2 separate regions of the Homo sapiens genome follow, and region 2 is linked to region 1. Evidence: fine-mapped expression QTL. A gene starts in region 1. The other region holds a variant in brackets. All regions are shown on one strand. Distances are between the middles of the regions. Region 1 holds the start of ZNF296 (zinc finger protein 296). Region 2 overlaps PPP1R37 (protein phosphatase 1 regulatory subunit 37).

What was found.
Region 2: its variant is fine-mapped to the expression of ZNF296 in putamen (GTEx, PIP above 0.99). The same link has a PIP of 0.9 or more in nucleus accumbens.

The regions. Positions count from the first base shown.
Region 1 is chr19:45,071,266-45,079,522 of GRCh38, reverse strand. ZNF296 (zinc finger protein 296) reads left to right here and starts at 3,045. Exons shown (of 3, transcript NM_145288.3): 1 at 3,045-3,447; 2 at 3,661-3,810; 3 at 6,943-8,023. The coding sequence starts at 3,150. The coding sequence ends at 7,922. GEMIN7 (gem nuclear organelle associated protein 7) reads right to left here and starts at 263. Exons shown (of 3, transcript NM_024707.3): 1 at 146-263. RefSeq lists an enhancer at 1-16 and silencers at 186-445, 2,849-3,258, 3,349-3,588, 3,919-4,228.
Region 2 is chr19:45,120,579-45,128,969 of GRCh38, reverse strand. All of the region lies in intron 1 of PPP1R37 (protein phosphatase 1 regulatory subunit 37), which reads right to left. It also overlaps the pseudogene EIF5AP3. Among named protein-coding and RNA genes, the nearest start is that of PPP1R37, 32 kb to the right of the region's middle. RefSeq lists enhancers at 2,826-2,965, 6,873-7,062. The variant G/A (reference allele first, on the strand shown) is at 3,662.

The DNA.
Region 1 (8,257 bases):
AGGGGAAGTTTTTCTCCTTCTCCCTTCTCCTCACCCCACCCGCGTGGGGCATTCCCGCTGCCGGCGATCGGGATCAAACAGTCCCTGATAGGAGCGTCTGGGGACCAGAACGTCCCTCCAGCCGGCGCTGCAGGCGCGGTCCTACCTCTTTCCGTCACTCAGGGCGTTGCACTGGGGTGAGCGTCCAGAGCTGGGGCCGGGGAGAGGGAACCTGCTGGCGACCCCCCACCACCTTGTACTCACCGAGGTCCGCGGCTACTGGTGTCCCCACTTCCGCCGGCGCCCCCGCTGCAGAGGCCCGGGCAGGCCGCAAGCCGCGGAGCCTGGGTTCCGCCCGCGCCGCCGCCACTGCCCCACGTGGTCGCGGGCTGGCTCGCAGGCTTGGAAGCCAGCACAGCCCGGGTCGCCACCTGGCCCGCGGCTTTGCGGGGCACTTGGGACCGATCTTCCTGCCTGCGAGTTGGGGGCGTCTGGGATGCCCATTTTAGGCAGGAAGAAACTGAGGTTCAGAGAGGGGAAGACTTCCTCCCTGCTGGGTTAAGGGCAGAGCTCGGTCTTTGCATCCCCATCCCCCTACACATACCCACTCCTAACCCCTTGCTTCCAGTGGGAACCCCCGCTCCTCTACAGGAAACCTGGAGATCATGGTTTCAGATGCCGCATACTAAGAAAGTAGCTGGGCTGGATCAGAGGCGGTCATTTTGTCCTCCAGCTCTCCCTGCAGTCCCATTTTACAAAGGGGGAAACTGAGGCCTTGAATGGGGAATATGAACCTCCCTATTCCAGGCCCAGTCAGAATTCACTTTCTCCTTGCGGGGTCCTCTTTACGCAGGGATCCTGTGGGCCTTTGCTTTCCACTAGATCACCAAGGCCTAGTGCCAGGTACACAATTTGGTGCTCTGCAAATATCTGTTGAAAGAATATCATCAGACACATAGTAGGTGCGCAATAAATATTTGTTGACTTAACTATGAACGAGTAGGGGTTGTATTTATGAACAAGACAGACTCCCATCCTGCCTCCTAGAACCTACGTTCTAGTGGGGGTAGAAGGGACAGAATAGGGTAAAATGAGCAAATATGTAAACAAGATCCTTCAGGGTTTGATCAAAGTGATGTATAAAGAATAAAATAGGCCGGGCACGGTGGCTCACGCCTGTAATTCCAGCACTTTGGGAGGCTGAGGCGGGTGGATCACCTGAGGTCAGGAGTTCGAGACCAGCCTGGCCAACATGGTGAAACCCTGTCTCTACTAAAAATAGAAAAATTAGCCGGGCATCTGTAATCCCAGCTACTCCGGAGGCTCAGGCAGGAGAATCACTTGAACCCGGGAGGCGGAGGTTGCAGTGAGCTGAGGTCGTGCCACTGCACTCCAGCCTGGGCAACAAGAGTGAAACTCCATCTCAAAAAAAAAAAAAAAAAAAAAGAGTAAAATAAGGGCAATGGGATAGTGGGTGGCTGGGTTGCCATGGAACTTAAAATTGGGTGGTCTGAGGCTGAGTGCAGTGTCTCACACCTGTAATCTCAGCACTTTGGGATGCTGAAGCAGGAGGAGCGCTTCAAGCCAAGAGTTTCAGACCAACCAGGGCAACAAAGCGAGTCCCTGTCTCTATTTAAAAATAATTTTTTTTGAAAAATTAAAAATTACAAAAAAAAAAAGGGTGATCAGAGGAGGCGGCAGTGAAGAAGAAACCACCTCAGATAACCCTCTAGTTCCAACCTGCCCTACCTCCTTTGACAGATGGAGAAAGTGAGATCCAAGAGGGAACTGGGGACAGATGGAGGTCATGGAGTGTAATTTGCAAGGCCTTCAGCAGGGTGGGGCTACTTTAGATACTGTTGGTCAGGGCCCTCTGCTCTCAGGAGGACAATGGAACCCAGACCTGAATAACAATGTGCAGAACTCCAAGAGATCAGCATCTGAAATCAGCATCTGGGCTGAGGACAGCTGGGGGAGGACAGGTTCTTGCCCTGACCTCAGGGGGCTTGCATTGGGTGGGGGAGAGGACAGTCCACAAGCCGTTCTATACTGTCGTGCAGTCGGTGCCAGGAAGAAAAGAATACTCATCAGGGATTGAGGGTGGGGCAGGGTGTCGATGCCACTTCAAACAGTGAGCAGACAGAACTGCTTAGGGGAGGGAAGTTCAAGGAGGCGGAGTGGAGGCAGGTGAGCTGCTTGGCTATTTGGTTTTAATGGCGACTTCTGGTCTAGGAACAGAGTCGATGTGTATGATTACAGTCCTCCTCTGCTCAAAACCCTCCTAAGGCTCCGGTCTCAGGAAAACCAAAAGACCTTAAAGCGATCAAAAGATTGCTTGGATCTGCCCCCATATTTTCACTGAACTCAATCCCCAACCCGTATTGCCTCTCCCTTTCCTTGTAATTCCTCAATGCCCAGGCCCACTGGCTGGGCTTCCTTCCCTCCAGCCTCAGCTCCACCATGCCCTTTCCCATCATAGGGGAGAAAATTGAATCCCTCAACCCCAGTAACCCTCTCCGCCTTTCCAGCTTTCTTTTGCTCCATGGCACTGGTCATCATGAAGGGCCATCTATATTTTACGTAATTATGTTTATAGTGTCTTCCCCCACCGTCTGAACTCCGTGCAAACAAAGATTATCTTCTGTTTATTCCCTCCTGTATTCTCAGGGCTTCAAACAGAGCCTGGCGCACAGGAGGCACTCAGTGAATGCTTGCAAAATGAATTTTTATTGTAATGCATTTAATGAAATAGCCCAGATTACTATCAGGCACCTAATAAGAAACGTGACCGACTATTTTTCTCGCTTGGGGGTGCGTGTGGGCATGCCGTGTCTCAGTTTCACCCGCCCTAAAACGGGATCAGGGATAGCTGTTTCAATGCCTTGTGGGAACTCGGTGTGATTAAATTTGGTCACTAAGCCAAACGCACGGGACACTGCCTAGATTGAGTTAGGCCGCCGTCAGGGCCCCAGCAGGGCGGCTCGGTCCCCTCCCATGAGCCCCGCCCTGGTAGGCGGAGCCACGGGCCCGGCCAGCACGTGTAAGAGTTCGCGGCGGGTCGCCGCAGTCACTCACCTGAGCGCGCACGGTCCGCGCGTCCTCCGCTCGTGCGTCCTCCGCCCGCCCGCCTGCCTGCCTGCCCGCCCGCTCGCTCGCCCGGCCCGCGACTCATGTCCCGCCGCAAGGCCGGCAGCGCGCCCCGCCGAGTAGAGCCCGCGCCCGCCGCCAACCCAGACGACGAGATGGAAATGCAGGACCTCGTCATCGAACTCAAGCCCGAGCCAGACGCGCAGCCCCAACAGGCCCCAAGGCTGGGGCCCTTCTCCCCGAAGGAGGTGTCCTCGGCGGGGCGGTTCGGCGGCGAACCCCACCACTCCCCTGGCCCCATGCCCGCCGGGGCCGCCCTCCTCGCCCTCGGCCCGCGGAACCCGTGGACCCTGTGGACGCCGTTGACCCCGAACTATCCCGGTGAGCACCCCGGGCCCTGGGCCCAGCCTCCCTTACCTTTGACCCTCGGGTGGGACCCTTCCCTTTGGGCATGGGCCCCTCGCCCTGCCTTATCTCCTTCGCCCCGTCCTGCCCCTCAGGCCCCCTTCTGACCTTCGGTTTCCCCTCTCCTTCAGCACCCTCAGCCCCCATCCTGGCCCCACCCCACGCTCACCACCCGCTTCCTCCCTGCAGACCGCCAGCCCTGGACCGACAAACACCCAGATCTGTTGACCTGCGGCCGCTGCCTGCAGACCTTCCCGTTGGAGGCCATCACTGCCTTCATGGACCACAAGAAGCTGGGCTGTCAGCTCTTCAGAGGCCCCAGCCGCGGCCAGGGCTCAGGTGAGTAAAGCCGGGTGCAGTCCCCCTCTCAAGTTCGAGGGCTGGGCTTCCTGCTGGAAAGGGGCTGGGCTGGACGGCAGGGCACTGAGCACTACTTCCCCTTTCTCGCTCCCCATCGGGTGCAGCCTAGGCGTGGCCAGGGCCTGCCCGTCCTAGGGCAGGGACCAGTGGTGGCGGTGGAGGGGGGGCGGGGGGGGACTGGGCAGGGAAGGAGGGCCGCCTACAGGGTGTGGCCAGCCCCAGAAGACTAGCCCGGGATTTTGCCCCCCCCAACACACACCCCAACCTGGTTTCACTTCTCCTTCCCCTTGGCCAGAAATAACTGGCCAGGTGGCTGGACCAGGGTGGCAGTAGGAGGGGACCTCTAGGGAGGGCAGCGGCCGGGGGGAGGGGGAGTGGAGGCCAGCTGGAATGGGGAGGTTGCCACCCCCTCCTGTCTCTCTCTGTCAATTCTGATTGAGGTGCTAGTACAGCTGAGTGTTCAGAGCCAAGGAAGGGGCTTCTGGCTTCCCTCGGTGATGGAATCTCCCAGCCCCGCGTGCTGGGAATCCCCTGGTTTGAGCGAGCTCCCGGGTGCTGGACACCCGGGTTCCTTCTCTTGGGAGGGAATTAAAAGCCTTCACATGGGGCTTGACCCTCGGTGAGCTTTTGGTCAGTGTTGGCTGCAGGGCTTAATCCAAACCTAGTTTCCAGCCCCCTGGCCCTTGCCCTTCTGAGACTTTTGAGAAGTGGAATTATTTAGGGTTGGGCCAGGGAGGGTCTGGTGGTGGGAAAGAGGAGGGGCTTGTGACTGATTGAATCAGCTTTAGAGCTGGAGCATGGAGAGTGGCCTGGAGGAGCGAGCGAGGGGCTGTGATGGAATCGCTGGAACAAAACACTACAGGGCTTGGAGAATCATGGGCACCTTGGTTTCACAGGCTCTGCTGTTTGAGCGCTTATGTGGACCAAAGCTCTCAACCATTCCCCAAGCGAGGTCACAACCACCCTTGAAAGGGAGGGGATCTCTAGGGTCCCTGAATTCTAGCAACTGAGGCACACAGAGGACTATGTCTTGCCCAAGGTCACACAATTAGGGAGCAGAGAAGTCTGAATTTGAATGCAGGCCTGTGCTCTTGACCCAGGACTGGTTGTATCACAAAGGTTGTCCCATCCAAGACTCTAGAATTTGAAAAATGGAAAGGCTAGTTCACCTAGGAAGTGTCCACTGAGAGTACCCCGAAGGTCCAGATAGAAATCCAAATTCAGGTTTGGGGGCTCAATTTGAGATCCATGCAGAGGGTGGGGGACCCAGGTCACTACCACCTCTTTACTAGGTGGCCGCTAAGCTTTCTCTGTAGCTACCCCATTATTTTGAGGTGGAGTCTTACTCTGTCACCCAGGCTGGAGTGCTGTGGTGCAATCTCAGCTCACTGCAACCTCCGCCTCCCAGGTTCAAGTGATTCTCCTGCCTCAGCCCTCCAAGTAGCTGGGACTACAGGCGTGCACCACCATGGCCAGCTAATTTTTGTATTTTTGGTAGAGACAGGGTTTCACCATGTTGACCAGGCTGGTGTCTCAAACTCCTGACCTCAGGTGGTCCACCTGCCTTGGCCTCCTGAAGTGCTGGGATTACAGGCATGAGCCACCATGCCCAGATATCTCAATTACTTTAAAAATTATTTTTATTAAACCAAAAAAAATTTTTTTTTTTGAAACAGAGTCTCGCTTTTGTCACCCAGGCTGGAGTGCAGTGGTGGGATCTCGGCTCACTGCAACCTCCGCCTCCTGGGTTCAAGCGATTCTCCTGCCTTAACCTCCCAAGTGGCCGGGATTACAGGCGCGCACCACCACACCCGGCTATTTTTTATTTTTACTAGAGACAGGGTTTCATCATGTTGGCCAGGCTGGTCTCAAATCCCTGACCTCAAGAGATCAACCCGCCTCAGCCTCCCAAAGTGCTGGGATGACAGGTGTGAGCCACCGTGCCCGGCCTAAACCAAAAATCTTATTCAAAAGCCTCTGCTCCCAGCCAGGTATGGTGGCTCACGCCTATAATCCCAGCACTTTGAGGGGCTGAGGCGGAAGGATTACTTGAGGCCATTAAGTTAAAGAATAGCCTGGGCGGCCGGGTGCGGTGGCTCAAACCTGTAATCCCAGCACTTTGGGAGGCTGAGGCGGGCAGATCATGAGGTCAGGAGATCGCGACCATCCTGGCTAACACGGTGAAACCCTGTGGCGTGGTGGCTGAGGCAGGAGAATGGCGTGAACCCCGGAGGCAGAGCTTGCAGTGAGCCGAGATCGCGCCACTGCACTGCAGCCTGGGCGACAGAGCAAGGCTCCGTCTCAAAAAAAAAAAAAAATAGCCTGGGCAACATAGCAGGACCCCATCTCTTTAAAAAATACTAAATTAAAAATTTAAAGCAAAAAAAAAAAAGCAAGCAAGCCTCTGTTCTGCCCTCTCCCCCTCCCCCAGTAGTCTGGATTGAAATCCCAGCTTCACCCCTTCCAAGCTGTGCAACCCTGGGGAAATGCCTCTCTGTGCCTCAGTTCTCCTGTCTGGAAAATGGAGATCTTATTTTCCTGTCCTGAGGGAAAGCCGGGCTATGAGCCATGGCTCAGCACCTAGCATGTAGGAAGCGCTTACTGAGTTAACATAACTTTTTAAAAGATTTTCAAACACATGGCCCAGCACAGTGGCTCATGCCTATAATCCCAGCACTTTGGGAGGCCGAGGTGGGTGGATCACTTGAGGCCAAGAGTTCGAGACCAGCCTGGCCAACACGGTGAAACCCCCATCTCTACTAATTAGCCAGGCATGGTGGCGGGCGCCTGTAATCCCAGCTACTCTAGAGGCTGAGGCATGAGAATAGCTTGAATCCAGGAGGTGGAGGTTGCAGTGAGCTGAGATCGTGCCACTGCACCCCAGCCTGGGCGACAGTGAGACTGTCTAAAAAAAAATGTTTTCAGGTACTTAGCACCCACTCCACAGATTTTTCGTGTCCACCCCTCCTCTGAGCGTCAGCTTCCTGGTCCTTCCAGGGTGTGTGTGTCTTGTTACTGCCAAGTCCTTTGCCCCTGCAGGAGTGCCTATCCCACAGAAGGTGTCCAGCTGGCAGCTGTCCGCACTAACACTCTGCCTCTTTTTCTTACCAGAACGAGAGGAGCTGAAGGCCTTGAGCTGCCTGCGCTGTGGCAAACAGTTCACAGTGGCCTGGAAGCTGCTGCGTCACGCCCAGTGGGACCACGGACTGTCCATCTACCAGACAGAATCAGAGGCCCCGGAGGCCCCGCTCCTGGGCCTGGCCGAGGTGGCTGCAGCCGTGTCGGCAGTGGTGGGGCCAGCAGCTGAGGCCAAGAGCCCCCGTGCAAGTGGCAGCGGCCTCACCCGGCGGAGCCCCACCTGTCCTGTGTGCAAGAAGACCCTCAGCTCCTTCAGCAACCTCAAAGTGCACATGCGCTCACACACAGGCGAGCGGCCCTATGCTTGCGACCAGTGTCCCTACGCCTGCGCCCAGAGCAGCAAGCTCAACCGCCACAAGAAGACCCACCGGCAGGTGCCGCCCCAGAGCCCCCTCATGGCCGACACCAGCCAGGAGCAGGCCTCTGCAGCCCCTCCGGAGCCGGCTGTCCATGCTGCTGCCCCCACCAGCACCCTTCCATGCAGCGGTGGTGAGGGGGCTGGAGCCGCCGCCACAGCAGGTGTCCAGGAACCCGGGGCTCCTGGCAGTGGGGCTCAAGCCGGCCCTGGTGGAGACACTTGGGGAGCCATCACCACGGAACAAAGAACTGACCCTGCAAACAGCCAGAAGGCATCACCCAAAAAGATGCCCAAGTCAGGGGGCAAGAGCCGCGGGCCCGGGGGCAGCTGTGAGTTCTGCGGGAAGCATTTTACCAACAGCAGCAACCTGACGGTGCACCGGCGCTCACACACCGGGGAGCGCCCCTACACCTGTGAGTTCTGCAACTACGCCTGCGCCCAGAGCAGTAAGCTCAACCGCCACCGCCGCATGCACGGCATGACGCCTGGCAGCACCCGCTTCGAGTGCCCCCACTGCCATGTGCCCTTCGGCCTGCGAGCCACCCTGGACAAACACCTGCGGCAGAAGCACCCTGAGGCGGCCGGCGAGGCCTGAGCCCAGGAAAGCCCCCCTCACTGTCCCTGGTACCGCTGCCAACACCCATTGACCTCCTCGTTTTTGCCCGCCTTCTCCAAGTAAATTTTCCCTTTTATTTACACCCGTCTGGACTCTGGCTTTCTTGGGGTGCATGAGGTGGGGCAGGAGGCTTCCCCTCCGTGGGGTGGACGGCTGGACAGACCGGTTTGGAGTGAGGGGGTGAGGGAACGGCCAGCCCCCAGTGCCTGGGGCGCAGCAGGACTGGCACAGAAAGCTGCGCTCCCAGTTCCTAGTGCGGGCGAGGCCAGGGCAGGGGCTGAGGCGAGGGCGGGGAGAGGCCCGGACCTGTCGCC
Region 2 (8,391 bases), 49 kb before region 1:
CAGGGTCCCTTCTCCACAGCGGTACTTTTGCTCATCTCCTTGCCAAGGTCTCCTCTGGCAGACGAAGAAGGTCCTCTCGCACCTCCCTGCTGTCCTGGAGCAGTGAGGGGTACCTTCCTGGATGCCAATCAACTGGGAGTCATTCCTTTTGATGCTGGGGACACCCACATTATAAGGTGACAGGCAGTTATTTTTATATTTCTTCCCAGTAAAGATGTCAATACCAACCAGGTGGACCTTGACGCGGCTGTGCTTGCCAGTCTTCCAAGCAGACATCTCAAAGACCTTACAGGGCCAGCCTTTGAGCACCACGAAGCCAGTGTTACATAATGCTGAGCACTGCATTGGGAAGGAGGCCGAGGCCCCTGCATCTCTTGTCTCGAAGTCCAAATCATCTGCCATTTTAAGAGGCTTCGATTCCAGCTCTCGCAAACACACTGACTCAACCTTGTCTTCTCGCTGCAAACCCAACCGCTGCCTCTGGGCCTGCTGCTGCCGCTGCCTCTACCACCCTGCCTTGACTTTAAACACACACAGCTGCAGGCATCACAATATTTTGCTTAAATGATCAGACTAGGCTCTGCAGCAACTACTCAACTCTGCCTTGTAGCATGAAAAGAGTAATAGATAGTATATAAACAAATGAGCCTGGACATGTGCAAATAAAACTTTATTTACAAACTCTGTCGGCTGGCCTGGGCTGTGGCTGCTGTGGATTGTCATTAGCTAAGCTCCATCAGAGATCCTTCCAGAAGGACATACAATAAACTAGGTGACTGCTTTTAGGAAGGTGAGCTGGCAAAGCCAAAGGAGGACAGGGAGAGAGAAACTTCCTTCTCTCTATATACATTTTTTAAAATGTTTAATTTTATTAATACATAATTATTATACATATTTATGGGGTACATGTGGTATTTCGATAAATGCATACAAGGATTGAGTCAGGGTAATTAGCATATCACCTCAAACATTTATCTTTTTTTTTTTTTTTTTTTGAGATGGAGTCTCGCTCTGTTGCCCAGGCTGGAGTGTAGTGGCACGATCTCGGCTCACTGCAACCTCTGCCTCCCGGGTTCAAGGGATTCTCCTGCCTCAGCCTCCCTAGTAGATGGAACTACAGGCATGTGCCACCACACCTGGCTAATTTTTGTATTTTTAGTAGAGACAGGGTTTCACTGTGTTAGTCAGGATGGTCTCTATCTCCTGACCTCATGATCCACCCACCTCGGCCTCCCACAGTGCTGGGATTACAAGCGTGAGCCACCGCGCCCGGCCCAAACATTGATCATTTCTTTATGTTGAATCTCTGTCCACCTTTTTACATCTTTTGAATACTGAGGCACATACAGGTCTAGTCATAAGCCGCATAAAGCCATTTCAGTCAATGATGGACTGCATATGCAGCCGGTGGTCCCATAAGATTTCCCACTATATTTTTACTGTCCCTTGTCTACGTTCATATACACAAATACCTACCACTGTGTTACACTTGCCGAGGGTACTCAGCACAGCCACATGCTGTGCAGGTGTGGAGCCCAAGAGCACTAGACTATTCCAGGTAGCCCAGGTGTGCAGTAGGCATGCCACCTAGGGTTTTTTTTTTTTTTTTTTTTTTTTGAGATGGAGTTTTACTCTTCTTGCCCAGGCTGGAGTGTAATAGCATGATCTCAGCTTACTGCAACCTCCACCTCCCAGGTTCAAACGATTCTCCTCCTGCCTCAGCCTTCCGAGTAGCTGAGATTACAGGCACACGCCACCACGCCAGGCTAATTTTGTATTTTTAATAGAGATGGGGTTTCACCAGGTTGGTCAGGCTGGTCTCAAACTCCTGACCTCAGGTGATCCGCCCATCTAGAACTCCCACAGTGCTGGGATTACAGGTGTGAGCCACCAGGCCTGACCAGGCCTAGGTTTGTGTAAGTCCACTAGGATGTTCACATGACCATGAAATCACCTAACGACGCAGTTCTCAGAATGTGTCATCATTAAGTGATATAGGACCGTATTACTACACAACTCACACATTAAGGTGAAAGAAACCAACATCACCAGCCCCTGAGCAGCCTGGCCACAGGCCGTGCTCCTGGTGATGTGCTGACTCAGAAGGCTCCCATTCCTGAGGCTTCCGGCAGATAATCAGATAATCGATAGGACCTGGTCACTGCTACATGCACAGGGATGGGCAGGGTGGAGAGAGAAGCTGGGAAGAACCTGGCTTCAAGCCTGGGTGACTGGATAGCTGGTGGGGTCCCAAACCAGGAAACACCGCAACACATGGAAATAGAGATGTCATTTTCTTTTAAGAGCATGGAGGCAAGTATTATTTACATAATCTCAAAAGAGAAAAGAAACACTTATTGTGGTATTTTCCAGAATTCTCAAGCCGGGGAGGTAGGGCGAGGGTGCAATAAAGTCACACCTGGAAACCAGGCCTGAGCTCTTGTTCACGACAATAAATAACCACCAACATGGCAGAGCCCCATTTCCCCACAGCATGCGGGCCTCGAAGCCAGGCGCCTGGGTTCCAATCCCTGCTCCGTCGCCAACAGCACAGAGCAGTGACTGCCCTGGGCCTCCCTGCTGCATCAACAGCACCTTCCCAGGGAGGGCTTGGTGAGCTCACCCAGCCTGGCACTCAGCACCACAAGGCACACAGGAAGGGCCCCTGTCCCTGCCCTCCAGAACCGTATGTTACAGTTGCTGCCACCACTCTGTGCCTGCCACATGCACCTACCCCACAAGGGGGCACCATCACCATCGTTCCACCTCACAGGCTCTGCAGGGAAGGTCCCAGTTGGGAGTCTCATGGCAGGTGAGTGACCGGCCCATGTGGGACAGCGTCTCAAGGAGCAGCCTGGGAATCCGGTGCTGGGCCTCTCTGCAGGACTCTCCATGCTTGTCAGCCCCCACGACTTGGGCACCATCCACCCCTATCTGGATGGTGGGCTGCACACCCTCGGGAAGGAGCCTGGGGCACAGGGGGTGTGGTCCACCTTTCCTGAAGCCTGTGCACTTGCAGCAGCCCCACAAGTAGAGATTTCAGGTCAAGTGAGAAACTCATCCCACAGGGAGCTCTGCCTTGGCGTGGGGTCTGGGAAAGGACGAAGAGGTCTGAGGCCAGAATGGCCCACTTCTCTTCCTGTCTTCCCCTGGGTGGACCAGCCTTGGTCACCCAATCTCTCTCACCCCAGGAGCCTGGATAGGCCTCTTCACTTTACCTTGACTCCCCGCTGTCCTCCCCAAAGGTTCTAGGAGTGGATAGGTGCCCCGTCCCACAACCTCTGTTACAATGATCGGTCAGGGACAGGAAGGTTACAGAGCCAGCCACAGCCGGTCCTACGCCCTGAGATGGAACTCTCAGGAAAGAGGAGCTCTCTTCCCACTAGGGTGGTTAAGACTGCATCCCATTTCTAGAGCTACTGGCAGCCATCCCTGCACCCATCAGGAGGGAACAGCCTTCCGCGAATGAAGCCAGCTCAGAGGAAAGCCAAGCTCAGATATTTTATTTTTTAGATGGAGTCTCGCTGTCGCCAGGCTGGAGTGCAGTGGTGTGATCTTGGCTCACTGCAACCTCTGCCTCCCAGGTTCAAGCAATTCTCCTGCCTCAGCCTCCTGAGTAGCTGGGACTACAGGCACGCGCCACCACACCCGGCTAATTTTT[G/A]TATTTTTAGTAGAGACGGGGTTTCACCATGTTGGCCAGGATGGTCTCCAGCTCTTGACCTAATGATCCGCCCGCCTCGGCCTCCCAAAGTGCTGGGATTACAGACGTGAGCCACTGTGCCCGGCCAAGCTCAGAGATTAAAGAGATATTGTTTGATAAAGAGATACTGTGCCTGACACCACACTATTCAGGACCCTTCAGACCCATAAGACAACAAATCTCCTCTTTTTGCTTCAACCATTCTGCCTCAGGCTTCGAATTTAGGAGAATTCCAAGCTTCGAATTTAGGAGAATTCCGTCTTGCCTCTCATCTGGTAAACATTTCCCAAAACCTATTTTTTGGGGGGTCCCCATCTGTCACCCAGGCTGGAGTTCAGCGGCTCAATCATAGCTCACTGCAGCCTTGCACTCCTGGGCTCAAGTGACCCTCCCACCTCAACCTCCCAAGTAGCTGAGACTACAGGCACACCCTACCATGCTTGGCCAGTTTTTTTTTTTTTTCTTTTTTTATGTAGAGACCGGGTCTCAGTATGTTGTACAGGTTGGTCTTGAACTCCTGGGCTCAGGTGATCCTCCTGCCCCAGCCTCCCAAAATGTTGGGATTACAGGTGTGAGCCACCAAGCCCAGTCCCCAAAACCTACTCAGGCCAAGCTCTGTGCTGGCACTGGGGAGACAGGGATGGCTCTGAACTGGTCCCTGCCCTCCAGGGGTTCTTGTCTGGCAGGGAAGGAGCACACAGATGATGCGTGAGAGCGAGGAGGGGGCCGTGCACGCACTGGACTGAGGAAAGGCCAGGCAGACAGGTAGAGTCAGGTCTCAGGGGCCGCCCTTCAGCCTTGTCAAAAAATCTGGACCTCTCTTGGGAGAATTTCTAGGATCATTGGGGGAAAAAAAAGAAAAGAAAAATAGACAATCTGGACCTCTCCACTCATGGGGCACTGTGCTCTGGCCACACCCAAATTCTTCCCGTCCCCCGAAGGGCCCGGTGCTTCCCAGCACCTCACATTCTCCCTCCCCTTTACACATTACACGGTACATGCTCTCACTGCTTACTACTTCTTCAATTCTCAGCTTAGGGATGCCTTCTCCAGGAAGCCCTCCCTGATCCCCACGGTAGGTCAGGCCCCACCCTCTGGGCTCCCCGTCTCAGCCCTGTCCCCTCTGAGTTGTCACCATCTGGAGACCTGTGTGTCTCCCCCACTGGACTATGAGTCCTAGGAAGACAGCATGGGGTGGTCTGTGGTCCACACTGTTACCCCAACATTGCTCCACATGGGGCCAGCCAGGCACAGAGAAGGGGCCAAGACAGGCACAGAGAAGGTGAGTGAGCGGACAGAGGAGAAGCTCACATCTGGCCACTGCAGTAGACCCTGAAGGTAGATGGGGATGTTCTGGCCAGGAAGGGCCCGGTCTACTCCATGCTTAGGAAGATTACTGCGGGGACTTGGCCCAGTGAACAAGGAAGCCTGCAGGCAGGGGAGAGGGATGCCAGGGCCTCAAAGCTGCAAGAAGCTACTCATGTAGTGAAACACGTTCTAAAATTCTAAAACATGCCCTAAAGCATTCCCTGCACAGAATGGTGCGAGCAGCTCTTTACTGAACCCCTTCCCTACCAGGCACTCTGCCAAACACTCGATTACTGCATTTAATCCGCATCATAATCCTGCAGAGTAGAATTTCCAGCCTCTACCACGCTACAGAGGGAATGGTCTTCTGAGGCCACACCTGTGGGAGCGGACAGAGGGAGGTTTGAACCAGAGCTGTCTGTCCTGCATCAGTACCCTGAAGCCCTCAGGCCCCGGCTTCAAACCGGACAGACAGGTTGTGGGAGCCTAGAAATGCAGCCTTCTCGAACTTCAAGACAGGGAGGCTGCCAGAGAGACTGTCTTTCTCTGTTGGGTTTCCAGGATGTGGAGAGCGGGTCCTGCCCTCAGCAAGGATGCGCTCGTAGGTTTCTTCCTGGTGCCTGCAGGAAGACCCAGCCTCCAGAGGCCCTTCACAGGTGCCAGTGCTGGGCGGGAGAGGTGTGGGCACCTGGTCCAGCCTGGGGTGCACTCACCCCTGGGACAGCCCCCAAATGCCTCCAATAGGCAGTGGCCCAATCCCCCACAAGCCAGCTCTGTCCCAGAGCCTTCTGCACAATCAGTGAGACAAATCCAGGGGCAGTGGCAGAACAGCATCAAGGCTATGATGGAGGGAGGGAGGGAGGGGACATGGAGGCGGGGAGGATGGCCAGGCTGGGATCAGCTGCAGCGGGAGGCATCTGGAAAAGTCTCAGAGATGACAAAGATGCAAAAGGCGTCTCTGGCAGAGGGAACTTTGTGAAGAAAGTGCAGGTGCAGGAGGCTGCCTGATGCATCTGGCAGTGAGCTGCACAGATCGGGACCTGGAGTGTGAGACGAGAGGGGTCAGCAAGGAGGCTGGAGGGGTCAAGGTCCTGCTTATGGAGCACGGGAGGCAAAGCATGCACATGGGAGAGCTGCATGGCCAGACCTCACTTGGGGGTGCTGGGGAGGGGCTGCTACAGTCATTGAGGTCCTGATCCTTGCCAGTGGCAGAGCCATCTGGACACAGTGCCTCAGGGTCTTTGCACCTGTTACCCCCTGCCCAGAGCACCCCTCTTCCTCACACCCCAACGGCTCCTTCCCTCCCTGCCTGCAGGTCTTCACTCCCAAGTCACCTCCTCAAAGGCCTTCCCTGGCCACCCTCCAAAAAGTCAGCCCCTTTATCACTATGAATCCCTGCTTCCTTCTCTAGGTGGCACTTCTCATGACCCAGCAGGAAGCGTACTGATCTGTGCATTTATGCTATAATGAGGGGAGAACTCTTACCCCTTTTGTTCACTGAAATATCCCCAGAAGGGTCTTTACTGGGCACACAGTAAGTGCTCAATAAATATGTGTTGACTGAAGGAACAGGAAGGTGGGGCTGGGGTGGGTCTCTGGAGTCAGCACAGGTGTGAGTCCCCAACTCAGACAGGGCCAGCTGGGTGAACTCAGGGAAGGTCCCTTCTTGTCTATGGCAGGCTTTTGGGTGCCCTGCACTCAGGCAGCGAAGGTGTGCACGTGATGAGGTCACCAATGGGTGTGCTCAGCCCAGAGCCAGCCTGGGGCAAATGCCTTCTACGCACCTTCACTAGGTGTCCAGTTCCGTCCTCTGCTCCCACAATGCCACGGCCTCAGTTGGGGGGCAGGGGAGGGACAGAACCACACAAGGCCTCCTGGGGCCTGAAATAGGGAGGAGGAGGCAGAAGAGTACCCACAGAGCTTTCTGTGGGAACCCCACACCCCCAAGGCCTCGCTACCTCTGCGGATGTGCTGCTGCACGTCTCTATCCCTGCAAAACCACACGTCTACACTGCCCACGTGGAGACCATCCTCACTCCCGCCTCCAAGCCCTTCCCCAGGCTGCTCCACACAGAATCAGAGTCTGATCAGTCATGTAAGCCCAATGCAGTGGGCTTCCCAAGGGCAGGTATTTCTCAGGGGAGTATCTTTACTGAAAGGGGCCCCAGGGCAGCCTGATATGTAGTCAAACCCAGATTTCTAAGTCCAATCCTGGAGCAACCACAGAATGACGCCCGTGGAGGCCCCAGCACCCCACCGCGGGCATCCAGAGGCCCCTCAAGAGCAGGGCTCACACCAGCCCCTGGACTCCCTGTATACACTGCACACAGCTGCCCACACATCTCTCAGGTCCTTGCGTGAGGACCCTGTATATTCACTGCGTGGCACTGGTCAGGTTTCCTGGGTAGAAAAGGCTCTTCCTGCCTCTAACCTTCTTCCTGTATTTGGGGAGCTCCCTACCTAGGGAATCCAGTGGCCTCAATCCCGCCCATGCGAGGGCCCAGCTGTCCTCCTGCCTGGTGACATCCTCCCCACACATTCCCTTGCTACAAATTCTGCAGGGGTCTGTTTCTGGGCTTACAGCCGAGGGCCATGGCTGACACATGCACTGCCTCCCATGGCAGGGAGACAGACGCCCTGAGGAGGAAAGTCCCTCATCCCAGAGTGTGAGTGTAAATGCAGGTCTGTGCTTCTGACCCCCTCTTCCAGCCACTGCCATGCATTTCCCAACAGTAATCATCCCCACGCTCTCCCACCACTCCTACAATCCCCAGTGGCACTCAGCAGAGAGGCATGGGGGAAGAGAACAAACACTGCTTGGGGCCCTTCTACTGTGCTTTACCGGTGGAGCCGTAACTTTGCGCCCACTCCCAAAACTAAGCGATTGACAAACTCGATCTCGTTTCCACTTCCTAATGGCCCTGAGAAATAGAAATTATCTCCCCAACTTTCCAGGGGACGCTTAGAGATGAGAAAGGACCTGACCAAGGACATGGTTCCGTCTCAAAGGCAATTTGGCAAGACCAGTCAAAAGTACAAATGTGCGGGGCACAGTGGGTCACGCCTGTAATCCCAACACTTTGAGAGGCCAAGGCTGAGGCAGGTGGATCACCTGAGGTCAGGAGTTGGAGACCAGCCTGGCCAACATGGTGAAACCCCCGTCTCTACTAAAAATACAAAAATTAGCCAGGTGTGGTAGCGGGTGCCTATAATCCCAGCTACTTGGGAGGAGAATCGCTTGAACCTGGGAGGCGGATGTTGCAATGAGACAGCGCCACTGCACTCCAGCCTGGGCAACAGAGCAAGACTCCATCTCAAAAAAAAGTAACATGCATATACCCTTTGATTAGCAATTACACACCTGGAGATTAATCCTACAGACA